Homo sapiens: one gene and its partners. The protein of the gene in region 3 purifies or fractionates together with the protein of the main gene of each other region. This does not show direct contact. Each region holds a gene or a part of one and is shown on either strand. Other genes may lie near its edges.

The links.
Region 1: the proteins of CYYR1 (region 3) and MAGI1 purify together in Homo sapiens (affinity purification with mass spectrometry; 3 studies listed by BioGRID and IntAct, with this or other methods). This does not show direct contact.
Region 2: the proteins of CYYR1 (region 3) and GOPC purify together in Homo sapiens (affinity purification with mass spectrometry; 2 studies listed by BioGRID and IntAct, with this or other methods). This does not show direct contact.

The regions. Positions count from the first base shown.
Region 1 is NC_000003.12:65,426,816-65,433,928, forward strand, and holds part of MAGI1 (membrane-associated guanylate kinase, WW and PDZ domain-containing protein 1), read right to left. Parts: intron 4,067-7,113; coding exon 3,884-4,066; intron 3,326-3,883; coding exon 2,705-3,325; intron 1-2,704. UniProt on the Homo sapiens protein: Plays a role in coupling actin fibers to cell junctions in endothelial cells, via its interaction with AMOTL2 and CDH5. May regulate acid-induced ASIC3 currents by modulating its expression at the cell surface.
Region 2 is NC_000006.12:117,564,459-117,571,571, forward strand, and holds part of GOPC (Golgi-associated PDZ and coiled-coil motif-containing protein), read right to left. Parts: intron 6,498-7,113; coding exon 6,402-6,497; intron 5,401-6,401; exon of another isoform or gene 5,279-5,400; coding exon 5,114-5,278; intron 2,577-5,113; coding exon 2,396-2,576; intron 1-2,395.
Region 3 is NC_000021.9:26,570,235-26,577,698, forward strand, and holds the start of CYYR1 (cysteine and tyrosine-rich protein 1 isoform 1 precursor), read right to left. Parts: upstream 3,053-7,464; 5' UTR 3,031-3,052; coding exon of another isoform or gene 2,707-3,030; coding exon 2,634-2,706; intron 1-2,633.

The DNA of each region.
Region 1 (7,113 bases), on a different chromosome or scaffold from region 3:
ATCATACACAAGACATATGGTGTATTTTAAAGACTGCTGATGTCACAGTGATTTTAAATTACTCATGTTCTGAAATAAACCATGTAGATGTTGATGAATATGGCAATATATTCCGGATTTTTCATATAAATGTTATAAAATGTAACACCATTAATGAGAAGATGGCATTGGGAATTAAGAAGAGAGAATGCAAACATATTTAAAATCAAGGAGTATAGTCAGGTGTGGTGGCTCATGCCTGTAATCCTAGCACTTCGGGAGGCCGAGGCAGGTGGATCCCTTGAGCGCGGGAGTTCGAGACCAGCATGGGTAACATGGAGAAATCATTTCTACTGAAAATACAAAAATCAGCCGGGAGTGGTGGCATGCACCTATAGTCTCAGCTACTTGGGGGGCTAAGGCAGGAAGATCGCTTGAAACTAGGAGGTTGAGGCTGCAGTGAGCTGAGATGGCACCACTGCACTCCAGCCTGGGTGACAAAGTGAGACCCTGTCTCAAAAATAAAAATAAAAAATAAAATCAAGGAGTACGTTTCTATAATCAGTTGTTTGCTGGCTTAGGCGAATTCATTACAATATGGTTCTAATACATGTGTAAGTTAGTTGGCTATAATGAAACTTTATGTTTGGTCTCCTTAGAAGTGAATCTAATGGGATAATAAACCACATCAATAACAGAAATGAGAAAGAGGATAGATGAGTTAGGAGAACAAGGTGGTTTGTGTCTGTCAAATGAGCAGTGGCTGAATCAGAGGTGCACCTGATGTACCAAGAATTATTTGAAAGTTTCCAGGCTGTCAGCCTCAGTATTAAGCAACTATACAAAAATCAGTGTTATTCAGTTAAGTAGGGCAGAACATTGGACTGGAAACCACAGAGCCAGGGTGAACAGCTCAGAACTACTGTGGGGTGGCACCTTCCTACCTCACAGGGAAGTGACAAATATCAGTGGAGAGGCACGTGCAGGTATGAAAGTGCTTTGTGTATCACTGATTCTTCTATAAGTGCCAGGTTTCATCATCACCATCATCATTATTGTCATAATCGTTCTTATACCCAAGTCATTTCCTACTACATACATCTTGGCTACTGTTTAAAACCAGTTCTCTGAGCAGTCAAGTGATCTAGGTACAAGAAGAGACTTGAAAATTAGTTGGTGGAAATGACATTTTAAAAAAAATAAAATTTGCACAATGCCTTTTATAACTGCCTAAGCCAGGCTCATTGAGCATTTCAATTCACATAGACAGCTACTCTGTATTTTGGGTTTCCTTCAAATGACCCCAGCCATTCTGATCGCAGAACACACAGGTTCATGAAAACATGAGAATCTGGCTGCTGTGACACAAATGAGCTCTCCTGTTGCAACAAACCAAAAGGAAGTCAAAGTCTGGTTCTTGATCTCTTTTCAAAAGGCCTGAATATGTTGTTCATGAAACAAATCATGGTAGCAAGGATCAGGGAAACAGCCATTCTCAGGCCCACTGTGTAAAACTATCAGTCACGACTAATCACATATAAGTATATATTCCAGGAGCAAGACACTTCAATATGGTGGAAAGTATTGCTCAGTGTGACGTCCTGTGTTTTCTGGTGAGGCAGAGGGTGGGATACGGACTCAAGGAGAAAGGAGGAAGCTTAATGCCTCGAGATTTAGAATAACCCAGATCTCTGAGATCCTAAACTACTAAACGCGAGCATGTGGAGGGAAGTGTTTAATATGATTAGCAGACCTCTTGTTTCTGCCAAATAGAAATAATCACATACCTATTCACTTAATACCTATTCATTCATAAATACCTAAAAGGAGTCAGGTGTTGTGTTAAATGCTGGGGATAACAGCTGTCCACATGCACACATGGGCCCTGGCTTTATGGAGCTTTATATTCTAATGAAAGACAAATAATGAAAAATAAATAAAAGCATGAAATAACGTCTTGTGCTAAAAAGGTGATGATGATCAAGGTTATGAAAAACTGTGATAAAGATTATATGGAAGTGTTGGGAGCTACTTTAGATAAAGTGATGGGAGAAGCCCTCTCTCATAAGGAGACCTGAATGGGACTGAGCCAGCTGGGAAGAGCTGGGAAAGGACCATTCCAGGCAGAACGGACAGTAAATACAAAGGGCCTGAGGCAAGAAAAGGCTTGAAGCATTAAAGGAGCTCCATAAAAGCAGCCAGTGTGGCTAAAGCACCATCAGATGGAGGAGAGGAACATGAGACAAGTTTGGAGTGACCATAGCCACATTTTGCAGGCTATGCAGGCCAAGTTCAGGAGATTTAAAGGATAAAGGTTATTATTTTTTATATATATATAAAAAAACTTTTTAGAGAATGGGGTCTCAATATGTTGCCCAGTCTGGACTCAAATGCCTGGGCTCAAGTGATCTTCCTGCCTCAGCCTCTCAAGCAGCCAGGACTACAGGTGGGTACCACCACACCCAACTTAGGTTTTTAAATCTTAACATTTTAAAAAGGCAAAATCTGATTTCTGTTTTAAGGTATCATTCTAACTGCATATGTCTGTCATAATGTATAAACCACAATTTTTATGCTAAAGAGGTTAGTATTTGGAGAAATCAGTAGGCATTTTGAAACATTTAAATAAATTTAAAAAGCCCCCAGTGGTCATCTGAAGATGAGTAAGTTAAGCAATGAATTTGGGATAAAAAAAAAATTCAAAGAACAAAACAACCCTACTTACCTCCTCGTTGCACCAACAATGTGACCTCACTTCCCTTAGGACACTCAACCAGCATATCCACCACTTGGTTGTGAGTTAGGGCCTGCACGTTCTTCTTATTAACTTCCACTATGAGATCCCCTTCTTTCAGGCCTCGGCACCTTGGGCTGTCAACAATCTGTTTCACTCTTTGGCCACCCCCACCAGGACTGTCTGCGATAGTAAAACCAAAGCCCATTGGCCCTTTGACAATATGAACAGTTATGAGTTCTGGCTGAGTGGCTATGGAGGAAGCCAAAGAAACAGTGTCATTAGGATAACCATGAGAACTATTTGAAGCCACGTCCGCTGGGCTGCTTGGCCTGGCATCCTTCATGCCATTGACTTTGCCTGTTTTACTACTGTGGCTAGCTGGTGAATCATAGGTCTCTTGCCCATTCACAATAATTGGTTCTTTATCCAAAATGGCTACCGAGGTCACTAAACTTGTATTGGGGTCATCTGGATCAAAAGGCAATGGATAACCTCGGCAGAGTTCAAGGTCCACGCTGGCACCAATGGGGATGGACTGGAAGATCTTCACAACTTGAGCATGTGTGTGTCCCAAAACACAGGTGTCATTCACACTTACAATCACATCCCCTGTAGAAGGCAAGAGTGTGGGGGTTAAGAAAACAGCACCCAGAAAATTGTCATCAGTATTATAATATCTCCCACTAACATAAAGCTGAACTGAAACTGCATGTGGGTGTGATACTATAGGGTATAAAGTGCTTCTATTACTGATTTTAACAGCTAATAAAGTGTTCTTTCAGCACCTAGTGTCTTCCCTGCTAATGAGAATGTAATAATCACTCACAGAACATTGGAGCTTTCTCCTAAAAAAAAATCTCACTGCAGAAATCCAAGTTTAGAATTCATTTATTTAAATGGGGATCTACAGTTTTAGTAACTCATTGCTTTACTGTACTCAAACAGTTTCCCAAACTTAAAATGACTTCACAGGTTTTAATCTGTCCCAAGGGATGAATTTATGTAATGTGGAGACCTGGCTCATTCTCAAGGTGTTTAAAGCTGTAAACATGTGCAATCATGACGTTGCTTGGTCTTGCTCAAACAAACAACATCATGATTGCACATGTTTATCTCCTGGATTGGAGTCTCACCACACAGAACACACTAAGGCCATGTTGACGCTACCTGTTTCCATCTTGCCATCCAATGCAGCAGGACCATCTAGGACCAAGCTCTTGATCTGGAGAAACTCATCAGGTTCATCCCCTCCAACCACCGTGAAGCCAAAGCCACGACTGCTTTTCCGCAGCTTTGTGTGAATGAACTTGCCTTTCAACTCAGAAGGGTTTCGTGTAAAAAAGGGTTTGCCTGGATTAAAATAAGAAACGCATAAGGAATGTCACCACTGGTGAAAAGGAGAATTAAACAAGATTTGAGACAACATATAGATAATTCTTCACGCTTATGCCCTAGAGCCTTTGGGCATATAGCATCTTAAGAAAGTCCTCTCTTAATTTGAGGAATAAGGATGTTCCTAGGCCCCAGTGTTGATGGAGGGAGGTAAAGCATTGAGTATGTCAACTCCAGGGTCCAAAAGAAACTACAAGAGAGGGATGAAACTAGTCCCTGTCAGGTGACACACTTCTTGGTTTCCATTCATGCACTTTGACAGGAATTGAGCTGCCACAAACCCCTTCACAGAAAATGGAACTGGTCTGTTTTATGTCTTTTGTTTTGTTTTAATTTTATTTTGCTATATGGCTTCTGATGTGCTGCTTTGGGCCTGGCTTCCACTTGAAAAACCAACAGAACTAATCAAACGGAAAATCCAGGCTGAAAATGCACAGATAATACCAGAAAACATATTATAGTCACAAATAATAATTTGACAAAAATGTAGAATGACTATTTTCAAAATTAAGGGTCATTACTTTGAATTGAATTCTAAATTCAACTGATTTTTTCCTATTTATCTGATCTTTTATTAAATTTGTGATATAGCCAACGCATGCCTAGGGCTAAGAATTACTGTTTAAAACAAGTTTAGGATATTTGTTTAAAAAACACAAACCAAAAAAACAAACAAAGAAACCCCCCCCACAACACACACACACAAAATCCCTAAACTAAGTAGTTACTAACAGTAGCCACACAGCTCCAAATTCAGCTGTCTTATTTAAAATAAATTAGGCTGGGGGTGTGGTGGCTCATGCCTGTAATCCTAGCACTTTGGGAGGCTGAGTCAGGTGGAGCACTGAGGTCAGGAGTTCAAAACCAACCTGGCCAACATAGTGAAATCCTGTCTCTACTAAAAAAAAAAAATACAAAAATTAGCCAGATGAGGTGGTGGATGCCTGTAATCCCAGCTACTTGGGAGGCTGAGGCAGGACAATCACTTGAATCCAGGAGGTAGAGGTTGCAGTGAGCTGAGATTGCGCCATTGCACTCCAGCCTGGGCAACAAGAGCAAAACTCTGTCTCAAAAAAATAATAAAAATAAAATAAATTTACAGATAGAGGTATCGCTAAATTATTTCCAAACATGCTACCTAAGGTTTTATTGAGTTTTCTTGATACATTCACAAATAACATTTTGAACATAAACCAAAACGTTTTCTTTTGGGTTTTACTAGGCACTTCTCTGTAATTGAGAAACTTACTGGAACTTCTCTGATTATCCCAAGTAGTAGACCTAATTTCATGAGCAGCTTCTTTCATCTCTTCTAACTTTACTTACTTCTTATACCCTGTCCTTGCCACACACAGCTTCTCCATCTGCCCTGTTTCTTTTCTATCAAAAATGTTATCCAAAACAAAAAGAGAGAGAGAAAGAGGGAGACATTAGTCCCCTACACCCCTGTACTAGGAGCCTGGCACCTAGGAAAGAAAGTTATTTTTGGTTAGTTATATCTAAAAGAGTTTAAAAGGTCTCTGGGCATGCATACAATTTTTAATTGCATATTTTAAAAGTTTCTGGCTCTTGCAAAGAAGGCTCTTTTAAATTGCCTGCAATCAGAGGTCCTTTCGCTAACCTGCTCTCTAGCGCAGTCCCAAAGCTTATTGGAAGGTTGACAAACTACAGCCCTGTCATAGTGGCTAAAGAAAGGCAAGACTTACAAGGATTCGCCACGCAAAGTCATCTGCCAAGGCGTTGGGAGGGTGGTGTCACTTGCACCAAGAGCTTTGGGGAGACAGCTGCCAAGACAATTATCAGATGGAAATTGAGGTGAGGTAAGATAACCCCCAAAGTTTACTTTAGGGGGAGGAGGGTGACTGGCCTACACTCTTGTAGCAGGTGCTGCTAGGGCATTCCAGGGCCCTGAAGGGAAACACATTTCAGTTATGCAGAGACATCAACAGCCATTACCTTCGCAGCAAGACCTTCCCTAACCACCTTACTAAAAATTGCAGTACCTCCAACATTCCCAATCCCTTTTTCCTGCTTTATTTTTGTCCTTAGCATTTACCACCTTCCAAAAGAATATACATCTTACTTATTGCTTTGGTTTTCTTACTATCCCCAACTCCCATGCATGAGTGGCATTGATATGCAGGTACATAAAACCACTAGAATGTTAGCTCCATGAGGATTTTTATACGTATATCAAGTATCTAGAATATTGTCTGGTACATTTTATGTGCTCCAAAAATTTCTGTTGAGTGAGAGAATGAATGAACAAATAAAAGCACACAGAAATGATATTTATCATGTCTTTGAGAAGGCTGAAAAGAGGTGTTTGGTTGTTGGAGCTTTTCACTCTTATTATAGGCTAAGTTAGAAAACGTGAAAATGTGCCTGGCAGTTTATCTACTTAAAAAAAAATACATTAGCATATTTTGTGCTGAGAATGTTAACTTAATAAAGACATGAGCAGAGCTTTGAAATTATACGACTGACTTCCTTTTCCAATGTTTAACAAGGGAAGGAAAATCAGAGGGTTTCACATTTATGCACATTTTATTATTTTTTACGTATGGGTGGATCATTAGTTAATGTAGCTTTTGGAAAGAAACGCTTTTCACCCCATAAGCAGTGGAATTTGGAGCTCTCAGCTGCAGCCCTGTGGTACATGTAATTTTCTAAGATCCTAACCTCTGTTTACCAGTCACCAGCGGTAAGACTTGGTTGTGTCTTACCCAGGGAAAATCCCCTGGGTAGCTTTTTAAAATGTACTCATTTTCACTTCCTTCCTTAGACTCACTGATCAGGATGTTCTGGGTCTTGGCCCAAAACTCTGCACCTGAATGAACCTTAGGTGCATGTTTCCCTGCCAGGATGGGGGGAGGGGAAAGAAATGTCACTTCTTGACACTAGTGTTTAAATACCCTAGACCAGTACCGTCTAATGGCACTTTCCGTGATGATGGAAATGCTCTGCACCTGCACTGTTCAATATGGCAGCCACTAGTCACATGT
Region 2 (7,113 bases), on a different chromosome or scaffold from region 3:
CTAGCTAAAACTTAAAACGAATTCTGATCATCTATAAAATAAATAATAGGCTTATAAATAAATAAGTGTTGACTATATCACCTATTTAGGTGATATATATATCTATAAAGTATAGACGTGTGAAACAATAACCAATAGATACATTTTTTTAAGTGAGTCAGTTAAAAGATATATACACACAAATTTTTAGTTGAGTCACATTTTAAGTGTCTGCAATTTGCATATGTGACAGAGAAGACTTCTAGCCTCAGTTACAAAAAAAAGGAAGAGACAGGCTTTCTAATCCCGACAGAAAACAGCAAGTGTGAAATACAATGAAACCATATGGAGAGCAGCCCAACAATTAAGGTTTTGACATACTGCCACAATAGTTTTGCTCAAGATGCACAGTGAAAACAGTAACTGCTACTGCTATCTTTGTGCAGACAGTTTACAACACACAAGTTTATCAAAAGTGCAACAGTTTATCAGTTCACCATAAAACTCCATGCCAGGAGTTCAACATTTTGGTCTCAGGAGGCCTTTATACTAAGCATTGAGGACTCCAAGAAGCTTCTGTTTATGTGGATTATAGCTACTGATGTTTCCCATATTAGTAGGTAAAATTGAAAAATCTAAAAAAAAATTCATTTCTTTGTTAAAAATGACAATAAATCCAGAAGGTTAATATAAATAACATTTGTCTAATGACAAATAACTCTATGTTCCAAACAAAAAAATTCTAGTTAGAAGAGTAGCATTATTTTACAATTTTACAAATCTCTTCAATGGCTTTGTAGATGATAGCTGTATTTTCATATATCTGCTTCCATTCAATCTATTACAAGTATATGAAGAAAGTTCAGCCTCACACAGATATGTAGTTGCTAAATGGAAGAGTATTTTAACAGCCTTTTCAGATAACTGTCAGTATTGTTCTCTGATATTATACAAAAATTTGACAATGTGGAATTTGAAACCTTATCAGTGAACTTTTCACACTCTGTTATATTAAAATCCATTTGCCTATCTTGCATTTTGAATGGATCTTTTCCCATGCAAAATTTTATAACTTCATTTACTGGTGATTTGAAAAATATTGGACCATGAAGTTATGTAGCAATTCCAAAAGTTGACACATTTCACTTTACTGTATCAAAAAATCACATTCATTAATATCATCATCAATCTCATCAGAAAAGCTTAAGTGTTAGGAAGCTGTCAAGCTCATGGTGATCAACGTATGTTTTACAAAGTTCTAACTTTCACTTGAGAGCTCACATTTTATCACTGGCAATAAATATTATCAGTTGTCTTTCCTGAAGTGATGGACTTTGTTCATTTTTAAGAAAATGGCTTCCAAATAGTCCGAAAATCCATACTTTGTTAGTCATTCATTCAAGTAAAAATTGTCTTCCATGAAGAAAAATGGCTAGTTCAGTCACTTATGTACTTTCCCTTGAAACCAGCATCTTTGTTCAGTGTGCAGAGTAAGTGCTTTATGCATACTTCCCATCTCATCACAAAGAATATTAAAAAGACAGGTACTCAAAGGTCAATATTTAAAAATTAACTGTTACTGCCATTTCATCAAAGATATTTTTAAGCAAAATTGGTATCTTCTTCTTTTACTATGAATGGATGGCAAGGAAGAAAACAATGATTACTAGTACAGTTACTAGTATTAGCAACACTGCCTTGATTAGTGCTAAGGCACCAGCAGTTTTACCCCAATTGCTTTTGCATCAACCAGATACCATCAGTGCAAATATCAACATAGCAAAAAAAGACAAATGATGTCTTAGTATTATTATGAAAAGCTTTGACCTCATGAACTCTGCTAAAATATCTCAGAGACCCTCAGAGATCCACAGATCACAATTTGAGGACCACTGCTCTATGTAAAAGGAAGTGCTAGAGTTTTTCCTTAAAATATGTCTAAATGATAGCAAAGGAACTAAACCAAACATCCCCAAGATAATATAAGTTGATTCTAATAGCAATCATAAGGTGACAGTATACTTCATACTTATTCATAATTAGCTTAAAATTCATTGTGAGAGATGAATTTGCATCAAGACAGACAGACAATGTAGTCTACAAGATAGATCTACTCAAAATAGTATATTGGTCTTTGTTTCAGAGTCTAGAAAAAATTTTATTTATTTTTCAAGGATCACTTGCAGTAGAGTAACTGGTAATGTACTTGTCTTAACAGTCCAAGATGAATATAGAAGAACATATATGGTAAATAAACTGTTAGCATAGTATACAATAAAACAATAAACAAGGGAAAGCTCTTCATTCCTTTGATTTCCTCACAAAACAGTTTTACTGAAGAAATTCTGAGGCCTTCACATTTTAAACATTTAATAATAATGAATATGTTAATAATAATTTTTAGAGTGATTTTTACCTTGTAATACTTTGATTTCCCCACTTGTGTCTTTGCAACTAGCACCAGGGTTACCACCTCCTTCTAACTCATCAAGGTACAAACGGTAACGATGTCCACTCTCATCTTCATACTCTACGTTTTCATCATCAGAATCCACTTCAGGAGCCACATAAACTACTTCAAATTCAATCTCTCCTCTCTAAAACAGGAAATGAAAATGAGAAAGTCAAGTTATTGTAATTGTAATTTAAAAAGGATTTCCAAATTCTTTGTGGGAAGGCTTAGGGGTAGAGAGATCTAAGAGATAGCTGATTTCCAGAAAATAAATAATAAAATTCTAGAATCTAAAGAGGTAGTGAGGCCATCATGTCTGATCAGCCTCGTGAATCCTCTCTACAGTTCCTTTAAACATTATAGTAGCTCTTTCTACTGACCATAGTCTTTTTGCTAATAGATCTAAAATTTAAGAGGATGCTTAATTATTAAATTTATAGAATTTTGGAACAAGTATTCAGTTTTAAAGTTATTTGCTACTTTGTACTGCACACAGCAATTCAGCAAATACATCTAAATAGTCAGATATTAAATAAGGATATCATACAAACCTTTCCTTAACTAATTCAAGAAACCCCTAGAAAATGATTTTTGTACACTGCCATAAGGACATCATATAAATCTTTTCTTAACTAATTCAAGAAACTCCTACAAAATGATTTTTTGTTTCTTATTCAATAGGTCTTGAGTAAGAACTTACACTGAGTACCAGACACAGACATAGTGTTAATCAAGGTATTCTGTCTCGTACTAATAGTAATTACTATATTTATATATTTACTATAAATTATAGCCTTCAATCCCCAGAATAATCCTATTATAGTCTCTTTTACATGAACGAGAAAGCTGAGTGAGTCCTGCAGAAAGCAGATAACTTTCCCTACATAATGAACAAGAATAAAGAAAAACAAAAGTTTGACTCTGAAGTCCTTAATCTTTATATTATGCTAGACTAACTGTGTAATATTTGTACTGTCATTCTTTAACAATGAAACATTCAAGTAAAAAGTTACAGATCATGCCAGGCACAGTGGCTTACACCTGTAATCCCAGCACTTTGGGAGGCTGAGGCAGGTGGATCGCTTGAGCTCAGGAATTCTAGACCAGCCTGGGCAACATGGCAAAACCCATCTCTACAAAAAAAAAAAAAAAAAAAAAAATTAGCTGGCCATGGTGGCAGGCATCTGTAGTCTTAGCTACTCAGGGGGCTGAGGTCGGAGGATCTGTTTGAGCCTGGGAGGTTGAGGCTGCAGTGGTCCGTAATTGTGCCACTGCACTCCAGCCTGGGTGACAAAGTGAGATCCTGGCTCCAAAAAAGAAAAAAATGTTACAGATCGTTTTATGTTAAAAGAAAAATTTCCAAGCTATAATTGTCATTTAATAAGAGACTCCAACCACTACATATAAGTGTGGTGTTGGCAATTCTGAAAACTATGGCTTGCCTTTGCTCAAAAGAAAACACGGCATTTTTGACTGCTACTCACTAAGTTAGTCTCTTTGGTGCTCTTCTTTCCCAGCAGTTTAAGGTTATACCTCAGAATTTTAATATGTGCTTAGTTAGCATTTCCTTAAAACTTATGGCTGCCCATTGATAGCTCCTTCACCAGTTATCCCACTCTTTTGCTACTGGATGACAGTCAAGATGGATTGATAAAACACTAACTTAAGAGAATAGCGTAGCATTCTTAGATCTCTCTTGTCAGCTAATGCTTTAAAAATACCATTTTGCAGAAAGAGACAGATGATGCAGTGGTCTTCAGCAAAGTTTTAGATGACAGAATTAGATCTGTGAGTAGCTGTCATGGAGACACAGATTTCAGGCTTAATATGAGAAAAAGCTTTCTAAAAATCAGTACTGTATTACAATGGAATGGACTGGTTGATATCAGCAAGTCTTCCCTGTAATGTAATTATTGAAGTAGTGATGTTGCAAAGATTTATGCATCATATAGAATTGAACCAATGAACAATATTCACTTTCAACTCTGAGATGCAATTCTACAGAGGCATACCACACTGATAATCCAAGAAACATCTCAATGTACTACCAATGCCTCTAATTCCCTCAACTCTATTCTTGAAAGAAATAAAATAAAACAACATTTTAAGTACAACTGTATGACAAATATGACTCCTGAGTATGAATCTCAATTCTATAATTTATTTGCTTGGCAACTTTGAGTAAATCCTTTCATCGCTAAGAACTTTAGTTTACTCATTTTAAGAGAGTTGGGCTAGATAGTTTCTATGTGTGATTTCAATTTTAATATTCCATGACTAAAATCAATCTACTTCTAGCACTGTCTTTTCTGTAATACCTTATATATAGTGTTCTAGGCATTAAGGATGTTGTTTTTTCAGTCTCAGGTCCTGTTCTGAGTACTTTATATGTATTAACATACTTAATCCTCACAGCTTTCTTTCAATCCCTCCCACACAGGTGAGGACACTGAGGGACAGAGGACTTAAGTAACTTGCTCAAAGTTATGAAGTAAACAAAATGGAATGGTCCATTTTCAGTAAATCTGACTGAATGTCAGCTATAAAAGCATTAAATCAAAGGAAACAAGAACTATGTGTAAACACTTTACTACTTTAGAAACTTCGTAGGGAAGTATACAGTGTTCAATAGATTCATAACCAATTGATAGATCCAGTTCTAATTACATGAAGGGAATTTACCTGCTGAGAAAGAATAGTTACAGCTTCTTTATGCTTTGTGTCCCTTAGGTTAACTCCGTTGACTGCCAAAATAGCATCCCCAACGTGCAGCCCTCCGCATCTATCAGCAGGTTGCCCCGGATGGATCTCAGAGATGAGGATTGGAACACCATGTTCTTTCCCACCCTAACAACAACAAAGGGCAGTAAATTAAAGTACTCTTTGTAAGGTACAGTTACCGATTAATCTAGAGATAAAATATTTTCTTAAAAATATATTTCATTAAACACCTATGCTGTCTCTATAAATGCTGGGTAAAATTTTATTTGCTACTTAAGTAATGGTAAAAATTATCAGAGTATTGAACAGAAATTGGCTAAATTCTTAAATTAAAAAAAACTTATGTGTTAGTACTCCATAGCACCATTACATTTTATCAAGTCTAAATCACTACGAATGACAAGACCAATTATTTTAGGTGCCACAAAAATAATTTTAAGATTATAAGATAAATTTCAATTTCAGAGAAGTTAAAATATGAAAATATATGCAATGTAGAATTGAAAAAATGCAGTATTTGGTACCTATCACTCTCTAGCTTATATCATTGTTGCGTGTGTGTAGGGGTGTGTGTGTGTGTCTTATTTGTCCTGCTAAAATGTATGCTCTTTGAAGGCAGCACATAAAAAAAAAAAAGGTAAGTATTCAAGAAATATAGATTAGATGAGCTTTTTATTATAAGAAACATTTCTACATTAAGCAATACTAAAAAAACAAATGATCTTGCTCAGTGCCTAAGTATTACCAAATGAAAATTAAAGCCACCTTATTCATTAAAGCACTGAGATGACAACAAAATGACTCCTAAAGGCATCGAATTTAAAAAAAAGAATATATAACATTTGGACCCAAGAGCCAGTGAAATCTGACAGCTAATAAATGAGGCAAGAGAAAGATACACGTACTCCGAGAGAGAACAATACAATCTGAAGCCATTTAACATAGAAGAAAACAGCCACGTCTATTCCCAAGGGCTCCTAGAGGCATCACAGTATATGGCACAGAACTATTAAGTGAATCATAATAAAAATGTTAAACTATGCTTACTAAAGGTACACTTAATAGTTGCTAGGAATATTTATTTCTTAAAAAAATATTTACACAAAAGCAAACATTTATCCCCATGGGGATAAATTTTAGTTATTTAAAAAATATATCCAGAATATTCTGTTCCCCAGTGATGTCCAACAAAGGAGCATGATTATACTAGATAACTGTAGAAAATGATACTGGAAGTACTACTTCTTACTGTAATTGAAATGCCAAGGCCTTCATGATCTTCCTTAAGGAGGAGAACTTTTCTAATTGGACCAACACCTTGGCTTTTCTTTAGGGAATCTTGATCCTTATTGGGAGGAAAAAAGAAGAAAAAGTAGTATCATTTAAATAGCATACCAAATAGAGTAAACTCATACTATATAACTTGCTTTTAGAAATCTGTATTAACTTCCTGGAATGGATAAACAGTATAGGGTTAAGAAAGTAACAGATAAAATGGAAAAATGAAAATAGCTATTCTGTTGATGCAAAATTTATAGATGATATTCTCACCCTTTTGCCAATAATGTTTAAAATATTGATACATCTCTTTTTAAATTGTAGGGCATTATAAAAGAAATGATTTCCAGGAATTAATTGAGGAACAAATATCCTCAAAAAATAAAAGTGTCTATCTTCACTGGATATCTTTAAGATATACATTCATTTTAGCTGAGTTGTAGAGTTGAAAAACAAATTTCCAATTGGACCATTAATTACTTATACATTCCTTGGTGCTCTGGAGTCTACCTCTTAAATAAAGGGCCTTGATCCACTAATAATCTTTTCTCTGGTACCCTTACTCTTTCTGTCTCTACTAAGCTGTTTTCCTACTCAGCAGATAAATGAATCACAAGCCTCTTCCAGTTTTAAAATACTGATCATGTGCAAATGCAAAACAAAACAAAAAACCTTTCAATCCT
Region 3 (7,464 bases):
CAGCCAACTTAAACTTTCTTCAATGACTTTTTGCTGAAAGGTGTGGTCTGGAAGAAGGTTCCCCAACTCACCCCTGACTCCCAACTCACCCTGCCTCCCACCTTAAGGAATGCGCAGAACAGGAAAAGCAGTATCTGGCTTGAAGCACTTGCTTAGAAATGGCCCTTGCAAGCTATAGCTAAGATAAGAGAGGAAGGAAAGGGAGGAGACAGAAGTTACTGGCTGAGGCCCGGAAGGTAAAACCTTGACCGAATCCTGTCTTTGTAGCCTGCAGTGGGAGTCAGACAATAATATCAACACTTCACTGGGTCTCCTTCCAAAAGTAACTCTATAGTACAACATGATGCTTCAGGTATAGAAACCTTGCTCTTATTTGTTTAGCCAAATGAAATGTGAATCTAATGCATTTGCTTTGGGGAAAATAATTTAGATTATGAGCAGTGCATCTACTTAGATTTTTGTCCCACAAAGCTGGCAATTCATTTAATAGTATGAACTATTTTGACTTCTGTGGTGTTCCAGCATCTAACCTCAACCCTTACTTCTAGCCATACCTCTTAGTTCCAACCAAACTGAAATATCCTTTGTTGCATGTACAGATCTTGATTTTTGACTTTGATCACACGATATCCTACTATATCCCACTCCGTCTCGTTGGGTTCAGGGCGTCTATATTTTTCAAAGGTCTAGTTCCTTCAAGTCTTCTTCAATTCAGTTTTCCTGAGCAAATACTGATTGATCTTTTTGCTGAACAAAATAGACATTGTCCTCATGAAGCTTACTCTTTTAAGCCAGCAGTAAGACTTTCTTCTTTGAACATCTATAGCACGTGATTTTACCTCTCCTATGACACAACCTTTTATACCTTAAAGTAACTTATGATCATACCGTAGTTCCCAGAGAAGACTGATAAGAACATGACCTCTTACGGCTCAACATACCTCACTCAGTAAGTAATAGTTGAATGAATATGAAAAGCATAAAAAGGCCTCTGAATAACAAGTCCAGGAATTGACACCAAAGAGCTTATTAGCTAAACACTTCTTAGCAAAGATAGTAAGTCAACTTAGCACTGGCTTACAACTACTTTGTAGCTTATGATAGAGGGATTCCAAAGAAGAGAAATGAATGGACTGAAAACTTTCTAAACTAACCACCCTTGTTGCTGGCCAGCTTCGCTGATTTCCTGAGCCCTGAGGAGCTGGGCACCTAGCACTGGGGAAACAGGAGGAGGGGGCAGATGTGTAAAGCAGAAGCTTTCAGTTTACCACAGGGAATATAATAAACAAACAAACAAACAAACAAAATTGTGGTTCAATGGAGTGGTTGAATAAGTGTGAGTGAAAGTATTAAATATTGTCGAGCAGAGGAAGTGAAAAGCATAATTACTTCGAAAGAACTAATAAAGAGATTTTTTCAATAGAAAATGAATATTAATGCAGTTGACTCTGTTAATCCCTCAAATTCTGAAAACCTTATACAAATTTAATAAAAGAAATAAATGTTGTAAACAGATTAAATGTAATTCTCTTCATTAAATACGAAGAACTTATCCTACTTTTATGAATTTTCATATTAGAAGGTCAGCATTTTTCCTGCCATAAAACATCTTTAAAATGGTAACTCCTAGACAGCCACTAATTTGCATTTCAATAAACAGGCTAAAAATGTCTACAGAAGTTATGGTGACTCTTTTCTAGCAAGGTTGAATGAGAAATTCAATTCTTTTAATACTCAGGTGCAACACTGAAGAACATCATTTCAGTTGCAATATCTTTTTGAGTATCAAAGGTAAATTTCAGTGCTATATATACATTTCGTATTGGAGGCTCAGGGGTGAGCCTGCGATTTTTGTCATAGGACGTTAGAGACACAAAAACATTTTACAAAGAACTTTGCTTTTAGCTTGCATTGTTTTGTGAATATGAACTGATGCAAAGACCACGTGTGTAAGACACTTTATACCTGAATAACCAATGAAAGGCCATTTGGGGCTCCATATTAATCACAAACAAGAAAACCCACTTTGCTTCGTTAATTATTAGCAGTTCTTACTACGAATAATTAGAAGGGAAACCAGATGCCCTTCTCTTATAAACAAGTGTCTATCTAAATCAACGAACCTGTACAGATTAGACCCTGGGTGAATTCATGCTTCTCAAAAACCTTGTGTTTGACTTCAGTCCAATAGCTCAGTCTACCACACTTGTGAATCTCCCAAAGAACGAAAACAAAGCTCTAAGTTTTTTTTATTCACAAGAGGGAAAACCAGGACTATTTAGAAAGCAGAAGATGGAGAGGCCACTGCCTAGCCTATCCAGATAAGTTTATTTGGATATAGTTTACTCTATCCAGAGAGTCAAATCCCCTAAACACGAGACTGCTATTTCCAAGGTGGAAAGGGAAAGAAAAGAAATGCAAAAGGTAAAAGTTAAAGGAAAAGGAACAAAACAAAACCGCGTGCGGCTGGAAGTGCGCGGGTTTCTGCCGTCGCCTCGCGGAAAAGGCAGAAGCGTCTGCAAAGGTCCTTCTGCAAAGGTCCCGGTCCGTCCAGCTCAACCCACGTTAGCCCGGACCGTGACCCAAGGGCAGCCCCGAGCCTCTGACCCTCTCCGCCGCCCTCCGTCACTGACCTGCGTAGACAAAGAGCAGGACCAACTTCGGAAGCAAGACCCCTGGACGCACGGGTAGCCTCGGAGCGTCCATCCAAGCCGGTGGCCTGAGGCTTGGAGCGAAGGGAGAGCCCGGAACCGGAGGGAATGGGGAGGATGGAGGGCGATCAGATGGAGAGAGCAGCGCTCCTGAGAGCCGGGTGGAGCAGAGACCCGGCCATTGCCTAGGGAGCCTTCCAAGGGAGCCCGGGCCGGGCGCGTCCCGGGCCAGCGACTGCGGGACTCCGCGGAGCTGGGGCGCCCGTGGCCCGAGACGGGCTGCGCTGGGGGCCCAGGTCTCTTTGTCTCGCCCCACTGCGCTCAGGCGCGGGGAAGGCGGCCACTCCGGCGTCCTTGGCCACCCAGGCTCACATTTCATCTCCGCGGGTGGCAACGACTGCGGGCAGGGGGCGGGGGTGGCCCCGACTCCTCCCCAAGCCCGGGTTCTTCCTTCTAAAGAGTGACTAGGGGACCAAGAAACTTTTCCTAACCCCTTGCTTTGGCGATTGCTATGGAGTTCAGCCTGCTCCTTTTTAACCTTGCCTCCACTACAATTTTTCCTTTCTAAGCAATGGATGAACAACTTTGCTTTTTATCTTTAAACAAAGGGAAGGAATTTTCAGGGTTGAAGGTATTCGACAAAGAGTGACAGTGAAGAAAACTCAGGATTGGGAAGTACAGAAAGTGTATGGCATCTCTGCTGAAAGCTGATAAAATGTTTATTATTTTTTCCTGTAAATTCAGAAAAAAAAAACACAACAGTGCACACTGTCGTTATGATTTTGACGTTTTGGAGTTACTGGCCTATGCAATTAAACAAGAGAAAGAAAAAGATTTATGAAAAATGAAAGCTAAATTGTCATTAGCAAATGAAATACGTGTATACATGGAAAATCAAAGTTAATCAACTATAAAGCTCTTGTTTAGCAAACCAATAGTTTTCTTTCCTGCAAACAAAAATCAGAAAGTTCTCAATGTTATGCATGAAGGAAAAAAAATGATACGAATAAGTAAAGAGATACTTTTTTCACTAAGAAAATTTAGTAGGATAAAGACAACAAGATTCCCCAAATTATTATATACATTTGGAAATAAAATTGATCCCAATTTTTAAAATAACATGATTTTTTTCAAACCAATCTGATTCTAAAGTTTATATGGAAAATAAATATGTAAGAATATCTATTTAAAACAAGAGTAATGAATGGGAATAATGAATGGGATATTACATATAATATCACAATAATTAAAACAGTTTAGATTAACATTGGAATAGATAGGCTTAGTGAAAGAGAAAAGGTAACCCAAAAGTAGACATGAGTATGTACAGCAATTTAATTTATGGTTTAAAGAAATATCAATGTAAAGTAGTAGGGGAAATGATGAGTTACTCAGTGAAAAGTGTTGAGGCCGTAAATAGCCATCTGTGGAGCCTTATCTTTTTACATCAAAATCAGTTCTATATGAATTACATATTTAAGATACAACTATGAAAATATTAGATTAAAAAATAAGAGGATAACATTCAAATAATTGTGGAATAGGGAAGCCTTTTCTAAGCATTATAAAAAACTCAGAAACCATAAAACAAAATATTGACCAACTTGACTAAATAAGAATTAATACTTCCAGTTGGCAGACATTTAACTGGCAAAAATATTTGCAATGCAAAGTCCTAATCTCATTATTATACTGAGCTTAAAAAAATCAATAGGAAAAACAACCAAGAGATAACTGAGGAAGGATATTAATAGACACTTCATACAAAACAAATAAATATAAATATAGAAATAAAATTGACAGTGAGACATCACTTTTCATGTATCAAACCAACCAAATACAAAACCAAATGAACTCTTAAGGGAAACGGTGTGGTTATATGTACGAAAATTCAAATACACATGTACTTAATTTAGTCAGTTCTCTTCCAGGAATTTTTTCCTGTAAATGCAGTGCTGCAAGGGAATACGAGAGTGGGAGGAAACATCACCCCCAAAATAAACATAAGCTAAGCTCTTTACTGTGTTTTACACGTTGGTGAAGGCCCAACCATCCACCATGTTCTAAAGAAGGCTGATCAGTTCCACCTTTTTTCTCATCCTCGCTGGCCAATCTATCACCAAGTTCACCTAATCTGTCCACCTGAACACCACCCAAACGCATTTTAAATTATCATCTATTTCTGTCCTAATCTAGACTTTTATAGTCTTGATTATATTCAGCCTCCCTGCCTTCAGAGATGTTTGCCAGACTGAAGCTGGAATATTTCTTCTTAAACTACAGATTTCATCATGTTCACTCACTCAGTAGCATCCTGTTGCCCTTAGGTTAAAATTCAAACATTTAATCCAGGGTGTTCAAGAACTTGTTCACTAGGTCCTGTCATTCTTGTAGCCTGATCAAAACATTCCACTGGGAAGCACAATTTCTAAATAACTGGGACAATGGTTGGAACCTAGAGAAAATCCCAGGCATACAAGCCCTTTGAGTCTTGAAGGAAGAAGATACAGATGGAAGTCAGTGTTTGCAGAGCTGAAGAATGGTATCCAGCCTGCTTGGAATAGAAAAATGATTGTCTTTGCAGATGAGACTGAATACAGATCCTTGATGGGCTGGTAGCTGTGATAGAAGAAGGGGCTTCTCCCGCCCACTTTTTGACACAGATCAGGAAGAGGCTGGCTGTTGCCACTGAGGCCCATAGGAAGTTGCAGTGTTGGTCAGGATAGTCTCTTTCAGCTTACTTTTGAGAACAGAAAGACTTCTCATACAGTTCAACAGATTGGTCGAGCAAGCTTGCCTGCAAGTGTACCTTCCAGAGCTGCTACCTTGAAGTATGCTGATGCTCAGGAAACCAAACTCAATTGACATGGAAAGGCAAAGAAAGATGGCAAGCCATTTAAGAAATTGTGGTAGTTAAAAGAAAGGATTTGAAGGAAAAAAAGATGTATATACAAATATGTATGGAATGAGAAACCTTAAGAATACAACATCAGAGGAACTAAAAGAGTTCCTGGAAATTAAAATAAATGTGGTTTGAGGTTTTAAAATTTACAGAAAAAAATTATAAAATAGTCACATTAAAAAAAAAAAACTTAGATTGTTAGATCAGGCCAGGCGCGGTGGATCACGCCTGTAATCCCAGCACTTTGGGAGGCCGAGGTGGGTATCACTTGAGGCTAAGAGTTCAAGAGCAGCCTAGCCAACATGGTGAAACTTCATCTGTACTAAAAATACAAAAAATTAACTGGGCGTGGTGGTGTGCACCAGTAGTCTCAGCTCTCAGCTATTCGGGTAGCTGAGGCAGGAGAATCAGGAGGTAGAGGTTACAGTGAGGTAAGATCATGCCACTGCACTCCAGAGTGAGACTCTGTCTCAAAAAAAGAAAAAAAAAATTGTTAGATCAAATAAGGAGTATTTTTCATATAACAGAGGAAAAAAAACACAAAGAAATAGAAACCACGAATAAAAATATAAAAACCCAAAGAATGGGAATAATGTGCAGGCTAATAGTTTCCAGAGAAACACAAAGTGAAAAAGCAAACGTCAAAGAAATAATGTTTTAAAATTCTGAGCTGTAATAAAATTTGAATTTTCATATTTAAAATGGTGAGTTAGTTCCGAGAAATTTTTTTTGAAAAGAAGCACAAATATGTACATATCTTAGAGACCAGTTTCAACAAGTATAAATTTAAAATCATATACATTTTCATATATAATTTTTATGTTTCCTTGAAAAAGAGAATCTGACAGGCATCAGATTTCTCATTTGCAACCCTGGAATTGAAGAGGGTGAAACTATTTTTAACCCACTGAAAGATAAAGAATGCAATCCAAGAATCCTCTTCTAAATCAGATTTTATTAATATTTCTGATCCACTATGACATCTAGAACAATGTTTATTACAATTTTAAAAAATAGTTTACATGTACAACAGAGGTAAAACAGTTAAGTAAATTAGGGTATATCCACATTATGAACTCATATCTAATGTTTAAAATTGTTGAAAAGATCTTTAAGATATATAGTTAAATAAGAAATGGAATACAAAATGATCTCAACAGTGGAAAAATGCAGCTAATGTTTTCATCTTTTATTGAACTTTCTTTTTCCCCACTTTCTTCCTGGGTATCTCTTTTTTTTTAAAAAAAAAAGTACCTCTGAATGAGGTATATGCTGAAATTTTAAATGCTTGAAGATGATTAAAAAGCTATAGGTGAAATATGACAAGTAAGTAGTTTTAACTTATAGTTTTATTTAGGACCAAAAAGTTAGAATAGGACAGGACTCCACAGATTGTCTAGGTCAGTTTCCCAGTTTCTTACGTAAGAAGACTAAGGCCAAATTACCAAGTCAGTTAGAGGCAGGCTAGATCCCATGGCAAGAGGCCACATAGCAGATTTTGCCATGATGTGATAGAGTGTGTTCAAGTTTGATGATAATCCCCTTTTGAGTTCCCTGACCCACATTTCTCTCTTCCAATAATTTATTTCACCATAGAATCAAACGGATTAGTATAATGTCTTACAATTAATTACCTTTTAATAAATACAACAAAAACATTTTATGTACACGCAAGGGCTCTACTTGTATCTGTTCTTCATCTTCATTTGACGACGTGTGAATGCCAAGGAAAAAAAAGTACTTATACAGAAACATGCAAAAACCCCAGAAGAAAACAAGAAGAAAAACCATGAAGAAAAGGGGAGATGATTTAAGTGTCGCATTTAAGGTGTGGAAGGAATATCAAATGTTTATTATGTACCAAGTCCATTTCTAAGTTCTTTAAGTTTATTCATGAATACTCTCAAAATC